2 separate regions of the Homo sapiens genome follow, and region 2 is linked to region 1. A link means that fine-mapping ties the variant in region 1 to the expression of a gene that starts in the linked region. Tissue or cell type: whole blood. Region 1 holds a variant in brackets; the other region holds the start of a gene. All regions are shown on one strand. Distances are between the middles of the regions.

What was found. PIP is the estimated chance that this variant, and not a neighbour inherited with it, causes the effect.
Region 2: it holds the start of NRP1, and the variant in region 1 is fine-mapped to the expression of NRP1 in whole blood (TOPMed, PIP above 0.99).

What each region holds. Positions count from the first base shown.
Region 1 is chr10:33,945,627-33,953,733 of GRCh38, reverse strand. No RefSeq gene overlaps it. Among named protein-coding and RNA genes, the nearest start is that of LINC02629, 46 kb to the right of the region's middle. The variant A/G (reference allele first, on the strand shown) is at 3,393.
Region 2 is chr10:33,329,967-33,338,073 of GRCh38, reverse strand. It overlaps NRP1 (neuropilin 1), which reads left to right and starts at 3,407. Exons shown (of 17, transcript NM_003873.7): 1 at 3,407-3,764; 2 at 7,192-7,366. The coding sequence starts at 3,692.

The DNA of each region.
Region 1 (8,107 bases):
CAGAGGTTGCAATGAGCCAAGATTGTGCCACTGCACTCCAGCCTGGGCAACAAGAGTGAAACTCCATCTCAAAAAAATAATAATAAAAGAAAATAAAAATAAAAATGATCTGATGTTAGTCTTGGGAAGTTGAAGTTGTCTCTTTTTTTTTTTTTTTTGAGACGGAGTCTTGCTCTGTCAGCCAGGCTGGAATGCAGTGGTGCAATCTCGGCTCACTGCACTCCGCCTCCTGGGTTCGTGCCATTCTCCTGCCTCAGCCTCCTGAGTAGCTGGGACTACAGGCACCCACCACCACGTCCAGCTAATTTTTTTGTATTTTTAGTAGAGACGGGGTTTCACTGTGTTAGCCAGGATGGTCTCGATCTTCTGACCTCATGATCCACCTGCCTCGGCCTCCCAAAGTGCTGGAATTACAGGCCTGAGCCACCGCGCCTGGCCTCATCTTTTGAGGAATGCATATAGGCTTGCCATTTGTGTTGAGCCCAGTAGTTCAGGAGACTTATTTCACCATGCACTCATGCTTCTATTTGTTTCCTACCTCTGCATTTATGACAGTATGGCAATGACTGCTTCTCCAGGAATTTCCTGGTTTTGCTTGTTTTTAGGTCACTGCTTCAGTCATCATCAGCAATGCAGAAATACAAGCAAAAGTGGACCATATTCTATAGTTAGTCGTAACATATTCATGGCTAGGTGTGTACACACGTGTATATATCACACACACAGGAAATAGGTAACAATACAAGGTTCTAGTTGATGAAGTGTTGAACAAATGACATATATGATAGGGGCTATTGGTATTCTGAGAAGATGGGGCGTAATCAAAGGGAATTTAAAAGGTTATTGCATCATAGTATAGAAAGATAATTCAGATATGAGATATTATTACATTATTTCTGTTATAAAGAAAGCATACGCTGTATGGTAAACTTATATTTAAAAGTCTGTTCCTAAAAACCAGTGTGCCAAGGCCGATGCCAGAAATGAGCTATATTGTTTAGGAGTAATTTATGTCAGGCAACAGATGCATTCCTGAAAAGTCAGGTTAAAGTGCTATTTGCTGAATTAAAATGATTTCCATAACATCTGCAATGTTAGAATAATAGCTCCGGGGCTCTTCTGTTAATCAAATGCGAACTTAAGAAAAATGCCCATCTATTTTCATCATTAGAAAAGAATGAAAATAAAGAACCACATAAACTTGCCTATTTCAACTGTCCCTGATCTTTAGCTAAAACCAACTGGTCAACTTGTTCAGTAGGTATTTTCCTTTCTCAAACCAGGGAATTTTCCTCACAATTTTTCTCTTTCTCCTACATTGTCACATTTTTCGCTCCAGTGGGTTTTTCCCATCAGCACTCAAATATGTGACTATTTCTTTCATCTTAGAAAAAACAAAACAAACCAAAAAACCCATCTCTAGAGACCATTTCCCTATTGCTGTCACCCCCATTCTCTCCTTTTCTTTTTAATAGAATCAAATTGGGCTTTTACCATACATGTTCTCTGCAATTTTCCTCCACCCATTCTCTGCTACGTTCTCTCCATCAGGGTTTTGCTGACGCCACCAGAACTTCCATGATCACTTCATGGGTTGACCAGCATGTTGCAAATGGTCAATTCTCTTTCATCATCTGACTGGACTTACAAGCAGCGTTAGACCCTCTGGTCCCCAGGATCTTCCTTAGTATACTCTGTGACTTGACTTCCAGGATCCGCATGTTCCTGGCTTTCCTCTTTCCTCACTAGCCAGTCCTTGGATTCTTGCTGGTTTTTCTGGAGGTACCCATTTAAAACATTCAATTACTGCCACGCTTAGTGTTTGGACCATCCTCTTCTATCTATCCACTTTGTCTGTGTCATCTCATTCAGTTTCAGAGCTTTAAATACCATCTACTCACTGATATTTACTAACTTAAGCCTTCAGCTATAACTTCAGACCCTGAGCTTCAGACTCTCTAGCTTTCTGCTCAGATGCCTGCTCCTACATACCTCAAACCAAACAAGCAAAAGGCTGAGCTTCTAATATTTCCCTTTAAACCTGTTTTTCCCACAGTCTTAACATTGAAGCCAATGGAACTGGTTTCCTTCTATCTGCTCATCTTTGATTCCTCTCCTTGTCTCTTATCTTAAATTTTATCTGTAAGAAAATCCTATAGCTCTACTTTCACCATTTATCCTGGATGTAACTCGTTGTCATCAGTTCTACTATGATGCTCCAAGCCACCATGATCACTTCTTTATCCAAGAAGCAACAGCTTCCTAAGTGATGTTCTTTATTCCTCTTCCCCGTTCTCCAACTATCTTTAGCACAGCAGCCAAAGGAATCCACTTTGAACAACTCAGGTCAAGTTGCCTCTCTCTTCAGACTCCAAAATCTGGCCGGGTTCGGTGGCTTACACCTGTAATCCTAGTGCTTTGGGAGGTTGAGGCAGGAGGGCCACTTGAGGCCAGGAGTTTGAGACCAGCTTGGGCAACATAGTAAGACTCCACTCACACTCCCAGCTACTTGGGAGGCTGAGACAGAAGGAGCGCTTGAACCTATGAGTTCAACATTTTAGTGAGCTATGATCGTGCCACTGCACTCCAGCCTGGGCAACAGAGTTTTCTGTTCATTCAAAGTAAAACAGTTTTCTCTGAGATAGGGTTTTGCTCCATCCCCCATGCTGGAGCATAGTGATGTGATCCTAGCTCACTGCAGCCTCTCTCCTGGGCTCAAAGATCCTCCCACCTCAGTCTCTGGAACAGCTAAGAATACAAGTCCATGCTACCACACCTGGAATTATTTTATTTTATTTTATTTTTTGAGACAGAGTCTCGCTCTGTTGCCAGGCTGGAGTGCAGTGGCGCAATCTCGGCTCACTGGAACCTCCAACTCTCTGGTTCAATGATTCTCCTGCCTCAGCCTTCCAAGTAGTTGGGATAACAGGCATGCGCCACCACGCCCAGCTAATTTTTGTATTTTTAGCAGAGATGGGGTTTGATCATGTTGGCCAGGATGGTCTTGATCTCCTGACTTCGTGATCTGCCCGCCTTGGCCTCCCAAAGTGCTGGGATTACAGTTGTAAGCCACTGCGCCTGGCCGATAATTTTTAAATTTTTTTGTAGGGTCAAGATCTTGCTATGTTGCACAGGATGGTCTTGAACTTCTGGCCTCAAGCAAGGAATTTCTTTTCACTCAAAGTAAAAGCCAAATCCTTTGAAAGGCCCTGTAGGACCTGGGCCTCCTCCCCTTTCCTTCTCTGACTGCATCTCCTGCTGTGCTCCCTCCATCTCAGCCACACCAGTTTCTTCCTGTTCCTTCAACACATGAATCAGACTCCCCATCAGAGCCTTTGCACCTGTTTCCCCTGCATCTGGTGTTCCCCCTCCATCTGGAATGTTCTTCCCCC[A/G]GATATCAAAGTGGCTCACTCCCTCACATTCTTGTCTGTACTCAAATGTCACATCCTCAGTGAGGCCTTCTTTGGCCGTTCTCACTAAAATTGCAAATTTCAGTCCAAGGGTTTTTTTTTTTACTTTTTAGCCCCTTTTATGCTTTTCTTTTTCATGATAGGAAAACTTATTTAATAGCAGAGAACAATGGCTTGACCCAACAGAATCACGTGTCATTGGCATAATATTAGCTTTCAGAAATGGCAGATAGCAAGAGAGACAGATTTTTGGTCACAGTCCTTTAAGAAACATTAAGTTATAGACTGCTAGGAATCGTGGCCTAGTTATGTCGCATAGATGTAAGCTAAACTCTTCTCAGCTCCCTTCTTCAAATGAAGCCAAAGGAACAGGAAGAATATGTTGGACAGGTGGTTGGATGAATAGATGGAGCTTCCACTCTCAAAGGCATATACATTTGAGATACATTAATTCTAGTCTTTACTCTGAAATGAGAATGTGGGATTGAGGCTGAAACTTCAACAGAATTCATGGTCTTATGAGTTCTTGAGGGTCTCTGCTCTCCTTCCCCAACTCTAAAACACTCTATTGAAAACTTCACAATTCATGAAGGATTTTTTAAATGTCTTTATTTTTCTTTAAAGTACCTATTACTCAACAGTATTCTCTGTAAAGGCAGAGATTTTAGGCTTCTTGTTTCTAACATTAAATCATTTATTCATTTACATTTTTTTTAAATCCCTCAGTGAGCTGAACATTAGGATTCCCAAGACAAATAAGACATAATCCCTGCCTGCAAAATATTTGTCTACTGTGAAAGATAAACAACACAGAGAAACAGAATCTCAATCCCCACACTTTTGCTAGTTTTAGGTCTTTACCACACATAAATTTTCTAAAATATAGATTAATTTTTTTTTGATACAGGGCCTTGCTCTGTTACCCAGGCTGGTGTGCAGTGATGCAATCTTGGCTCACTGCAACCGCCGCCTCCCGGGTTCAAGTGATTCTCCTGCCTCAGTCTCCCTAGTAGCTGGGATTACAGGCATGCACCACGATGCCCGGCTAATTTTTGTATTTTTTTTTAGTAGAGATGGGGTTTTATCATGTTGGCCAGGCTGGTCTCAAACTTCTGACCCCAAGAGATCTGCCCACCTCAGCCTCCCAAAGTGCTGGGATTACAGGTGAGCCACTGTACCTGGCCTGATTAATATATTTTATGAATAAAATGACATATGATTTTTATTTGAATCTTTTTGTGAGAAATTCTTTTGTAAAGTATAATCAGGGCCAGATGCAGTGGCTCATGCCTGTAATCCCATCACTTTGAGAAGCTGAAGCAAGAAGATTGCTTGAGGCCAGGAGTTTGAGACCAACCTGGGCAACATAGCAAGATCTTGTCTCTACAAAAAATAAATAAATAAATAAATATTAGCCAGGTGTGGTGGCATGCACCTGTAGTCCTAGCTGCTCTGGAGGCTGGGGTGGGAGGCCCTTTAAGCCCAAGAGAGAGGCTGCAGTGAGCTAGGATCACATCATTGTACTCCAGCATGGGGGACAGAGCAAGACCCTCTCAAACAAATAAATACATGCATAAGTAAATGAATAAAATCATTCTCTAGTTCAGTCATAGACTACTATACCTGGATGAGCCCTTAGATCTTGTCTCATCTAGTTACCTTACAGAGCTGAAGAACTTAAAGCCCAGGAATCATGTCTTAATAACAATAATGATATCTATTATTTATTGGATGTTTGTTGTCTAGCAGACACTGTGCTAAGCACTTTGCATGCATTATTGCATGTAATATTTACAACTTCATGGGTTGGGTACTATTATTATCCCACTTTCCTAGATGAAGTAAACTGAGGCGCATGGAGTTCTTTGCTCAAGGTCACCCATCGATGTAAGTGGTGGAGCTCTGTCTTATGTATAAAGCCCAGGCTCTCAGCAAAGGGATATGCTGCACTTACCCATAGTGTTCCATAAATAAGTGACAGATTGGGATCTCAAACCCACTTTCTGATTCCCAGTCCAGTACTTTTTTTTCCACAACAAAATACTGTTTTTGTTTCCAAAGTGTTTTCAATGGTGGTGGTGTTTTCTGGTCTATTGACATGCCTGCATGATGACAGCTACTCTGGTAGTTCCTCTGTGGCCATCCTTTCTCATTCATTTTTCAGTGATTTAGGAATAACAGGAAAAATTGAGATGGAGTCACATCTTTATAACAATGTCAATACCCTCTTTCGTTTATGTGCCATAAAACTAACATTCTGCAGGCGAGCAAGACATCTCAAAATGGTTCAATTACACCAGAGCAGTGAAGTAGCTCTACCACGATGTATATTACACACAACTGTTTACACATAAACTCATACTGTAATCAAAGAACAGTTTACCATAGCCAGAGAGAATGATCATAAAACTTTTTCCTTTCCTTACATCACTCAAAAAATCGTTTACTCTTCTTAATGACAGAACAATCTGTGTATTTTTGCAATCGCAGTAAGCAGCTGTAGAAAGCATTGTGATAACATCAATAGAAGCACAGTATGGTAATGTAAAATTAATGAGCGAGATGGCAATCTTTTTTTTTAGGCAAATCATGCTTTGTGATACAGCACGCCCTCTCAATTAGTCTGTTTTCAGGGGCAAGAGAATGTGGGTATTGTGGCAAAGTGCACATTTAAAGATGTGGGAGTCACTAAGGAAGATGGTTGCAATTGACAGTCAATGTACCATGGCTGCACACAGGGTAAAAAAAAGAGCCACACGCTAACAAAATATACATTCACTCTTTTGCATTTATTTGTTGATTCTCTCATAGCGATCAACAACATGGTTGAAACTTAACTGACTTGTATTTAACAAAATAAATAAAGTAAGTAACTAGGTAAACATATATATCAATGATAACTGTTATGAATACCTCCTAAGTTTTTCTCTTTTCCAAAGTGGTGTATATTCAATGACTAGTAAGGCCAGCAAAATGCATAAAATCTAGACTGGCTTCCGATAGTAATTAACACTTTCATCACCAAAGCTGAGATTCAGACTTCCCTGCCTTGTGTGGGGATGCAAATCTCCTAATAAATACTGAACTGGAGTCTTAAGGAGAAGGGGTATAGAGTGCATTCAGACTCACTGCTCCACTGCAGTTGAACTGCAGGACATCCAAGGAGACTGGGAGGAAGCTTTGCGAAACAAACTTTTGAGAAACTGTGTGATATGCTTTGGCTGTGTCCCCACCCAAATTTCATCTTGAATTGTAGCTCCCATAATTATCACGTGTCATGGGAGGGACCTGGTGGGAGGTAATTGAATCATGGGGGCGGGTCTTTCCCATGCTCTTCTCATGATAGTAAATAATCCTCACAAGATCTGATGGTTTCATAAAGGGGAGTTCCTTTGCACATGTTCCCTTGCTTGCCACCATGTAAGACGTCTCTTTGCTCTTCCTCATCTTCTGCCATGATTGTGAGGCCTCCCCAGCCATGTGGAACTGTGAGTCCCTTAAACCTCTTTCCTTTATAAATTACCCAGTCTCGGGTATGTCTTTATCAGCAGCATGAGAACAGACTAATACACTGTACAAGGTGTGTGTTGCCTTAAAATAATTTAGGAGGTATGATCTAATTGGAGCACATAAAGAAGGTGATGTGAGATTCTGTTCAGATTTGGTTCAAAGAAAACACTGCTCTGTAGGGGTGTCTTAATGGCCGCTTAATTTTCTTCTCTATATTATAGTTTCTTTTAATGCACTTGTGGACCAACAGAGAACGATGTTGAACATTGTTGCAAATGTTGTCAATAGCTGTAGAATGTTTATTTTTTTTTTAAATTTTTATATACCAATAGTAGGAAATGGAAACAAAAGTGTGTATGTATAAATACAATTAACAATTATTTGGAATCTTAATGCCCAGAGGAAAGCACTCTTGCTATTTTGGTATATAAATCTCCTACCAGTTTCACAAGGCATTTAAATTCATTACAATGAAGGGTTTCCTTCCTTCTTTTACATATTCAGTCCTTGCTAGCACTGATGGAAATGCTGACCCAAACAAGTGACACATTACAGAACAAAAGGAGGTGTTTGGTAAGGCAGGGGAAAATAAAATAGTGACTCTTTTAGTATAGTAGAGTTATGCTAAAAGATAATTATCTTTTAGCAGATCCACTTTGTAATAGAAGTCTTTTTTTTTTCTTGTAAATGTCTCACCCCACGGCTTGACTGGGAAAGAGAAAATCCAAGTGGAAAATGGAATCTGGGGAATGGTGAAGAGTTGAGTGATCTGGGGAGTAAGGGGCATGTGAGAGAAGAGGAGGAGTCCTGGCTTGTGTTCTTATTCTTTGCCTCTTGGAATTCTCCGTAAAAACTTGGATGTTGGGAGCAAGCCCCCCAAAATGTGGCCATAAACTGGCCCCAAGACTGGCCATAAACAAAATCTCTGCAGCACTGTAACATGTCCGTAAACGGCCCTAACGGCCCTAACGCCCAAGCTGGAAGGTTGTGGGTTTACGGGAATGAGGGCAACGAACACCTGGCCTGCCCAGGGCAGAAAACTGCTTAAAGGCATTCTTAAGCCACAAACAAAAGCATGAGCGATCTGTGTCTTAAGGGCATGTTCCTGCTGCAATTAATTCGGCCCATCCCTTTGTTTCCCTTAAGGGATACTTTTAGTTAATTTAATATCTATAGAAACAATGCTA
Region 2 (8,107 bases), 620 kb after region 1:
TCAAAAAACTTGACTAGATATGATGCAGTTTGAACTACCAACCCGAATCTCCATATTGCATGAATCTGAAGTACTTTGAGGGAGTTAGTGGCTCAAATGGCCTTCTGGGAGCAATCGATTTCATCTATTTCTGACAAAGGGATGAGAGCTTGATGAAAGGAATCGAGCAGTTACCATCCAGTCTACTCTTACTGATGGGCCACGGTTCCAATCCGACTCAGGGAGCCCCAGCTGAAGGCCTTATTTCTGCAGCACCTCCTAAGTGGGAGTCCAGGAAACTGGGCTTTGCCCACTCACAGCCTCTGCAGGGCGTTCTGGGGGTGCGGTAGAGGACTCTTCCCTTCCCTGGAACTGGGTCCTACCAAGTCCAGGGATTTGTTCTATCAGGAAGAATAATGTGTTCAAGAGACCAAAATAAAATCAACCCGGGAACACTGCCAAATTCTTCCTCTGCCTATCACTTATTCTCGTATAGAGCCGGCCTGTCTCCACGCTGGGGAATTGCAAAAATCTAAAACTGACCCCTCTCACCACTTAGTGGAATCCAACAGCAAAGGAAAAAGGTTGTTAGCAAGGACAATTTGCTCTGTACCAACCCACTGGCCGGCAATTCTCAATCAGTGCGGTAGGGCTCCATTACCCAGCACTGTGAGTGGAAACTAAGGAGTCTAGAAAAACCTTAGATCAGCTAAGAGCAGAGAAATCAGAGGCAGAACTTAAATATGACATTTCCTTCTGAGTCCATAGTGCATCCCTTATTCACTGGTTGGAGAAAGCTGGCAAAAGCGCTCAGCTGGAGGCAGGCGTTTTCTGTGCGTTGAGGCGCCGGAGGAGCCATTCCCTTCGGGAAAGACAAGGTCGGGGTGGGGGCAGTCGCTCCGGAGTGCACGATCCGGTGGCTTTATTTGCTGGCCTGGCGGGTCTAGGCTGGAAAATGCACACTCAGCAGGGAAAGGGGAAGAGAGATTGGCGGCAGTTTTCTAAAAACAACACAGCTCAAGTCTCCCTCGTGTGCCCCCTCGCTCACCCCGCCGAGGCTCAGAGCTATCCAAACGGGCGCTCCGGAGCGAGCGCGGAGGTCGGGTCCCCCCAGGACGCAGGCGGGCCTCCGAGACTCCAGGCCGCCCCGGCCGCCGCTCCCTCCCGGTTCCCCTTCCCTGTCAACCTGCCAGGTCCTGAGAGGCGCCTCTCCCTCCGAGCCTGGACCGAGGTCGCTCCGGGTCACCCTAAATCTGATGATGCCGCTCGCCCGGCGCAGCCGGGGGCTGGGACTGGCGGGGCTGCACCTGGGGAGGCGGCGACCGCGCGCGGGTAGTAGCCGAGAGCCCAGGCTGCCTCTGCGGCGCTCACTCCCCCGGGGTCTGCGCTGGGCGCGGTCGGCGCCCCCGCCTCGCCTCCCGCCTGCCCGCCTGCCCGGGCGCAGGGCTGCCCATGGCTTCGACAGTGCTCCTTCCGCTCAACTTAGGCATTTAACTCCCAGCCCTTCGGTGCCCACTTCCCACCCCGCGCCTCCCAGGGGTCCGACAGCTGAGAAGAAGGAGGAAACTGGCAGAGGAAAGAGGCGCTCGGGGGGGCCGAGTTTCCAACTTGGCGACTGGGAATCCCGAGGCGCGTGGGGAGGAGAAGACAGGCTTGACCCGGGGCAAGAGAGTGGCGAGTGCGGGCTCCGTGGGTGCACCTCCCACTGGCCCGGGAACGGCCTGCACCCCGAGGGGCGCACGTCACTGCTCCCAGCCCGAGTCGCGAGCGCGCAGTCCTGGCCTGGGGCCCGCGCGCCTTGGGCTTTCTCCCTGCCCGCCCCTTTTTCTTCCGCCAAAACCTTTGACCAGAGTCTCCTTGCCAGCATTCCTACCTCCCTTTGGCCAGCTATTTGTGCCAGGTAGGAATCAGGCTGTACTTTGGCTGTGTGTGTAGACGCCAATCCCCAGGAGGCGTGTGACCTTTTCACCTTACCCACAAACTCCCTGGGAGGTGCCCCGTGGGCACTGACCCTTCTCCGGGGCCTGATCGGTGACCGCAACCTGTTTCTTCCCAGAAATGTCCTTGCTTTTCGCATCTACAAACGCTTCCTGCAGCACTTCTCGGAAAACCCTCGGGGACGGGCCTGGGGGGCATCCAGCGGGCTGGGGGCACGAGCCGCTGTGGGAAGTGGGGGTGGCAGGAGCTCCAGGGCCGGCGTGCACGTTGTCTGTGGCCGGGAGCGGACACTGAGAGGGCGCAGCGAAGAGCACCCCTCCCCCGCCACTCTTTCCCTCCCTCGGGATGCACAGAGAAACGGGGGCCGCCCGACCCCTGATTTCCACACCCCTCCCTAGCACCTGGGCTCCCAGACAAGGTTGGGCGGGGTCGGGCGGCGATTGCCCCCCTGCTTGGAAGGCGCAGCACCTCCCACCCTCCGGTGTTCCCTCTGCCCCAGAGGAACGGGCACCAAATCTCGGGAAACAATGAAGCCTCCGCGGCGCGCAGAGGGCACCCAGCCGCGCGCCCTGATGCGGGCCAGGGAGGCCGCGTGGGGCTGCAGCCCGGCCTCGCCCGCCCAGGCGGTCTGTCTTCGCTTCACACCACAGCGACACTGCTGCCCCTCGCCCGGCTTCGCGGTGCGGCTCCCACTCCAGCCCGGCTTTCCCCTCCTCGCCCTCCAGCTCTGGGCAGGGGCGTCCAGGGGTGCCCCGCTGCTCCCCGCCACAGGTCTCAGGATGGCGCGATGAGGAGTGGCAGGGGGTGACCCTGCGTTCCTCGCCGCCGAGGGCGCGGGCCCCGGGATTTGAAGTTGCGAGAAGCAGCCGCCACCTCCCGGGCGCTCCGCACTGCGCGGCGGCGGGATCTGCGCCTGCAGGAGCTGCCCAGCTCTCCCTCTAGGGGTGCAGAGCGAGCACGCGAGGTGGGCTGGCCAGACCCTGCGGCTGGCACTGACCTCCGCGCCCCTTCCTCCGACGCCCGCACCCACGCGACCGGGGCGCAGACTCCCAGCGCCTTCCTTCCCGCGGAGATCCCTGCAGGGTCTCTGGGAAAGACAGACAGACGGACGGGGAGAGCACTCGGAGGGAAAGTTGTTCCTCCCAGTCTCCTGTCAGGCAATTACAGGCGAGCCCAAGCGGGGAGAGGGGCGGGAGGAAGCGAGGGAAGGGCTCCGGAGTGGGGGGAGGCCGCAGGAGGGGAGGCGGGGGTGCAGTTGGTGAAACTCCTCTGTCTCCCGCTCATCTTTTCATTGCTCGTTCCCCTCCTTCCCGCAGACACCCGGACCTCCCCTGGGCGCCAGCTCCGCGGCTCCAACGGGTCCAGAAACAAGCCGGATTTTTTTTTTTTCTTCCTGGAAATTGGCTTTGGTGTGTGTTGCCCTACCTCCCTCCTCCCCCTCCCACCCACAGCCCCCCCCCGGCCTTTTTTTTTTTTTTTTTTTTTTTTGAGACATGGCCCGGGCAGTGGCTCCTGGAAGAGGAACAAGTGTGGGAAAAGGGAGAGGAAGCCGGAGCTAAATGACAGGATGCAGGCGACTTGAGACACAAAAAGAGAAGCGTTCCTCTCGGATCCAGGCATTGCCTCGCTGCTTTCTTTTCTCCAAGACGGGCTGAGGATTGTACAGCTCTAGGCGGAGTTGGGGCTCTTCGGATCGCTTAGATTCTCCTCTTTGCTGCATTTCCCCCCACGTCCTCGTTCTCCCGCGTCTGCCTGCGGACCCGGAGAAGGGAGAATGGAGAGGGGGCTGCCGCTCCTCTGCGCCGTGCTCGCCCTCGTCCTCGCCCCGGCCGGCGCTTTTCGCAACGGTAAGTGACAGGCAGAGGCGCGGGTGACAGCGGCGCCCCGGCTCCCAGCTGCCCGCCCCGGACCGGGGCTCAGGCGGGGCTTCCCGGGATCAGCCGGGAACAACCGACTCCCGGGCGAAGGAAACTTTTATCTGGGAGGAGAGAAGAAGAAATGAGATCAGGCGGTTTAGAGCAGGAGGATTTCAGGTCTTTGGGCTCCCTCCTGACGTTGATCCTTGGGCTGTGGGGCTTTTCCTTACCTCTGTTACAAGACAGAGCTGTCTACCTTCCCAGATCAGCATGCCAATTATCTTAATAATGTTTCCTCCCAAAGGCAATTAGAAGAGACTCCCTTTCAAAAATCTGATGGCTGTTGAAAGTTAATGAACACTTTACCAGGAGATCTTACTTCCTGGTTCCTTTGCTGCTCCCCTAAGCCGTTTCCTCTGGTGGGTGACGGCCAGAGATATCGGTTTGTGGGTTGATGAAACTCCCTCCCCCGCCTTTGTACACCTTCCGTAATCTGTCTGGAGTATGACTGAAAGTTACATAGTATCAATACAGGAATCTGACATATACAGTGTAAGGCACCAGGATATCTGAAAATCCCTAAGCTAGTTGCAGCTTCCACTTAGCTTTTAAAATCACTCACTGTTAAGTAAATGAAAAACTATACTGGGGTCTAAACAGTACCATGTAACCTAAATAATGTGTTTTAAAATGGGATCTGGTTGTAGGCATGTTTGACTTCACACTGTAAAGTAAGTGCAGGCAAGGGTATGCAATTATCTTTACAGTAAGTCGTCAGCAATTGTTATTAACTAATGATCAAATATTTACTTTTGTCTGGCTTAGATTTCAATCACAGTAATTAGAAGAAAAGAACATCCACTACTTACTGTGGTATATTGTTTTAATAAGAGACCGCAAGTGGAGGGCCTCATACCAACAGGAATTTAAATCACATCTTTATGATGGAAGTTAATCTCTCTAATATGCTTTTTCAAGGTTTTGTGATTTTAGCAATGGATTTCCCTCAGCAGCTACCAAGCAGTATTTTAAGAGATGCTTAAAGCAAAACACATGCAAAAAAAAAAATTATGAACATGGAATTCAGCTTATTAATGAGCCCAAGTTGATGGCATTTTTCTATAATCTGGCAGGAAAGCAAGACACAAAAAATTATGAATGTAGAATTCAATTTATTAATGAACCTGAGCTGGTAGCATCTTTCTATACTCTGGCAGGGAATGAAATAGCATTCTCGTCCAACTGAAAGAGCTCAAATGGTTGGACTAGAAATTATAGTAACCCTGTCCTCCACAACTCTTGAGACTAAATCCATAGTGGGGGTGTTCACAAGATAGATTTGAAGCTCAATGCAAAGAGCTATCAGACTTTAGGTTGTGAACTACACAAATATATATGCAGTACACACACACACACACACACTTCTTAGTTTTCTTAGCAGAAATCTGGGGAATGCTGAAAATCTGGCTTTAGTTGTTGAGCTTTACCAGCAAAAGCCATGTCGCTATGCTTGAAGTGACCAGAGCCAGAAAATGCCTCTGTAACTCAGCAGACCTCTCAAAGCCATGTCCACCTCCTCTGAGTAACCAGTGTCTGCTAAATTAATTCATTAACCTTATTTAGGACTAATGGTCCAGAGTCATTAGAAACTGCTCTTTCTTAATCAACTGCTAGAGAGATTGAACAGAGCCAGGGAGTCTAGCAGTCCACATTATCTTATTACACTGTCACTTTCTCAGAAGTCACAGATTAAAGAGCTCTGGTGTGGTACCAAGTCCACCTAAATGTCTTCTGAAGTGACTCTGTCGAGTGACTAGAACCAGTGCTGTTTTATTTCACTCCTGTAACAGATGCCAGACACTACCATGATGTTTGTCCAGAGCTAGAGGAAACTTAATGAGACGAGGTCACTTTCCAAGTTTTCTGCACATTCAAAATAATGCAAGAGTCTCAGCAGAATCACATAACAGAGTCCAACATGATCATTAGCTGAGATTTTGAACTCCAGTTGCAACATCATTTCTTCCTGGCAAAGCTTACACTTTTACAAGCCAGTGCAAAGGAAACCAGCATAAGACTACCCCCAGTCTAAGGAACAAAGTCAGAAGCACCTAGCGATTGAGAAAAACAATATAACTTATATTGTCTTCTTTTTTTAATTTATGGGAAATGATTTCTGTAATGCATGTAGCTTTATGCATTTTTGATGTGCACTTCATCTTTCATTTCCATTTGACCTGGTTTTCCTGTAATAAAATTCTGTAGATTTATAAATTCATGCTGAGAGCAAAGAATGCCATTCTCTTTCCACAGGGAATCTATTAGATGCAGTGTTAAAATCTACATCTACCATTACTGAAAATTTGTGATTGATAGGCTTATATATTTCACTGTTTTCATACCGTTTCTCTTATATAGTTTATGCACCGAATTTTTATTGCTCAAAATTAAGCATCAATAAATGTGGCAGCATTTCAGGCTGAGGTGCTCCAGTATGAAATCCATCATAAAATGTGACAATGAGAATCTATGCTGAACAATATAGGCAGCCCAGAGACTGGTTTACTTGGTTTATTTGGCTTCACTTGAGCATTTTTGAAATGAAGGCTCAAAACTACTTAGCTCACCTTTCCCAGAATGTGAGAATGTGGGTTACCATATGTGATACCCAGACCTGTGTGGTGGGTTATTTTTCACCCAACATTTAGGTAATTAGAATTAATGCCATGTGGCTATTTACTTTTCCTTCTGCCCCGTTGCTTTGATCCGATCTCCAAGCTTGAACAACTTTACTTGGAGAAGTAAAGCAGAATTATTTCTGCTTCACCAAATATACTTTGTTCTCTGTTGATTTGGATCTCAAGAGCAGAGATAACTCAAAATCACTTAGATTTATGGGCAGATAAAACAACAACAACAAAAGGTTTGGCTTTAAGCCAATCAAAGACAATCCCCACTGATCAATGACATAGACCAGGCTTATCATCAAAAAACAACACAAGGGGTCGAACAGCATCTTTCAGTCACTTTCCACTTAGAACTTGCTACTTAATGTGATTACACTTCTTGGGGGATAATTAAGTCTAGCAGAAGCTCCCAGGGGACCATGTTAACATCAATTGAGGGGATTTAATGTTTTTAATGCTAGAAGACCTTTTCCTTAGGAAGAAACTTCGGGGCTGGGGGGAAGAGTCCTCTCAGATCTCAGTTGGCTTTCTGCCTGAGTCAACCTTCCTGAGATCAAAGAGTGTTTTTTCCTGGAGTGTTGCACTCAGAGCCACACGAAGGACTTACGGGGACCTTTTAGAGTTCCCCTTAAAAAGTTAAGGAATGTTTAATAACCAGTAATTTACATATAAAGCTAGATTACCTAACAGGTTGTCAGGAAAGATCTGCTAAAATCTTACTTTCATTGCAGATAAATGTGGCGATACTATAAAAATTGAAAGCCCCGGGTACCTTACATCTCCTGGTTATCCTCATTCTTATCACCCAAGTGAAAAATGCGAATGGCTGATTCAGGCTCCGGACCCATACCAGAGAATTATGATCAACTTCAACCCTCACTTCGATTTGGAGGACAGAGACTGCAAGTAAGTGGGAATGTTTTTGAACAGGGCACCACAGCACCATCTAGTGGTCACGCCTGTCTACGGGGGGGAAGTCGGTGTGTACAATGTAGATTATAAATGGATCCAGGAGGGATTCCAATCTCAGCCAGATTATATGTCAATGGTATGGAAATTGAAGTACGTTAAGTGATTTCTGAGTTCCCCAAACCAGGAAGATTATAGTTAAATGTGTAAGCTCTTATACTCCTTCCTGTTAGCACTTTTGGTTTGGGAACTCTTGTTAAGAAATGTATACAGTATGTATGTTTCTTTTTTCTTTCTTTTTTTTTTTTTCCTGGAGAGGGGAAGAACTAGAAACTCAAAAATCTCACTTGTATTTTTACGAAATACAGTGGATCACTAATATACATCGCATCCACAGATAGTGTGATTGGAGATCTCACTATTTGAGATATATTGAACTGTGGCACATCTTATGATTTAAGAACTGCATTCATCTTACTAAGTAAGTTTGACATGGAAAAAGCAAATTGAATAAAATAAGGCCTACAGGATAAGCCAGATGAGGGGTTTTGTAAATGGTGGATTACTGATTAAAATACTTTTATGGAAAATGCTAGAAAATAATTGTTAAGACACGATGAATACAATGGGAACTCAAATACACATCAGTGTTTCATCCACCTGCTTAGTCTTGCTATCTCTTTCTATTGTTAAGTTTCTAAACATCAACTTATGCCCAATTTCGTTATTATGAAGACA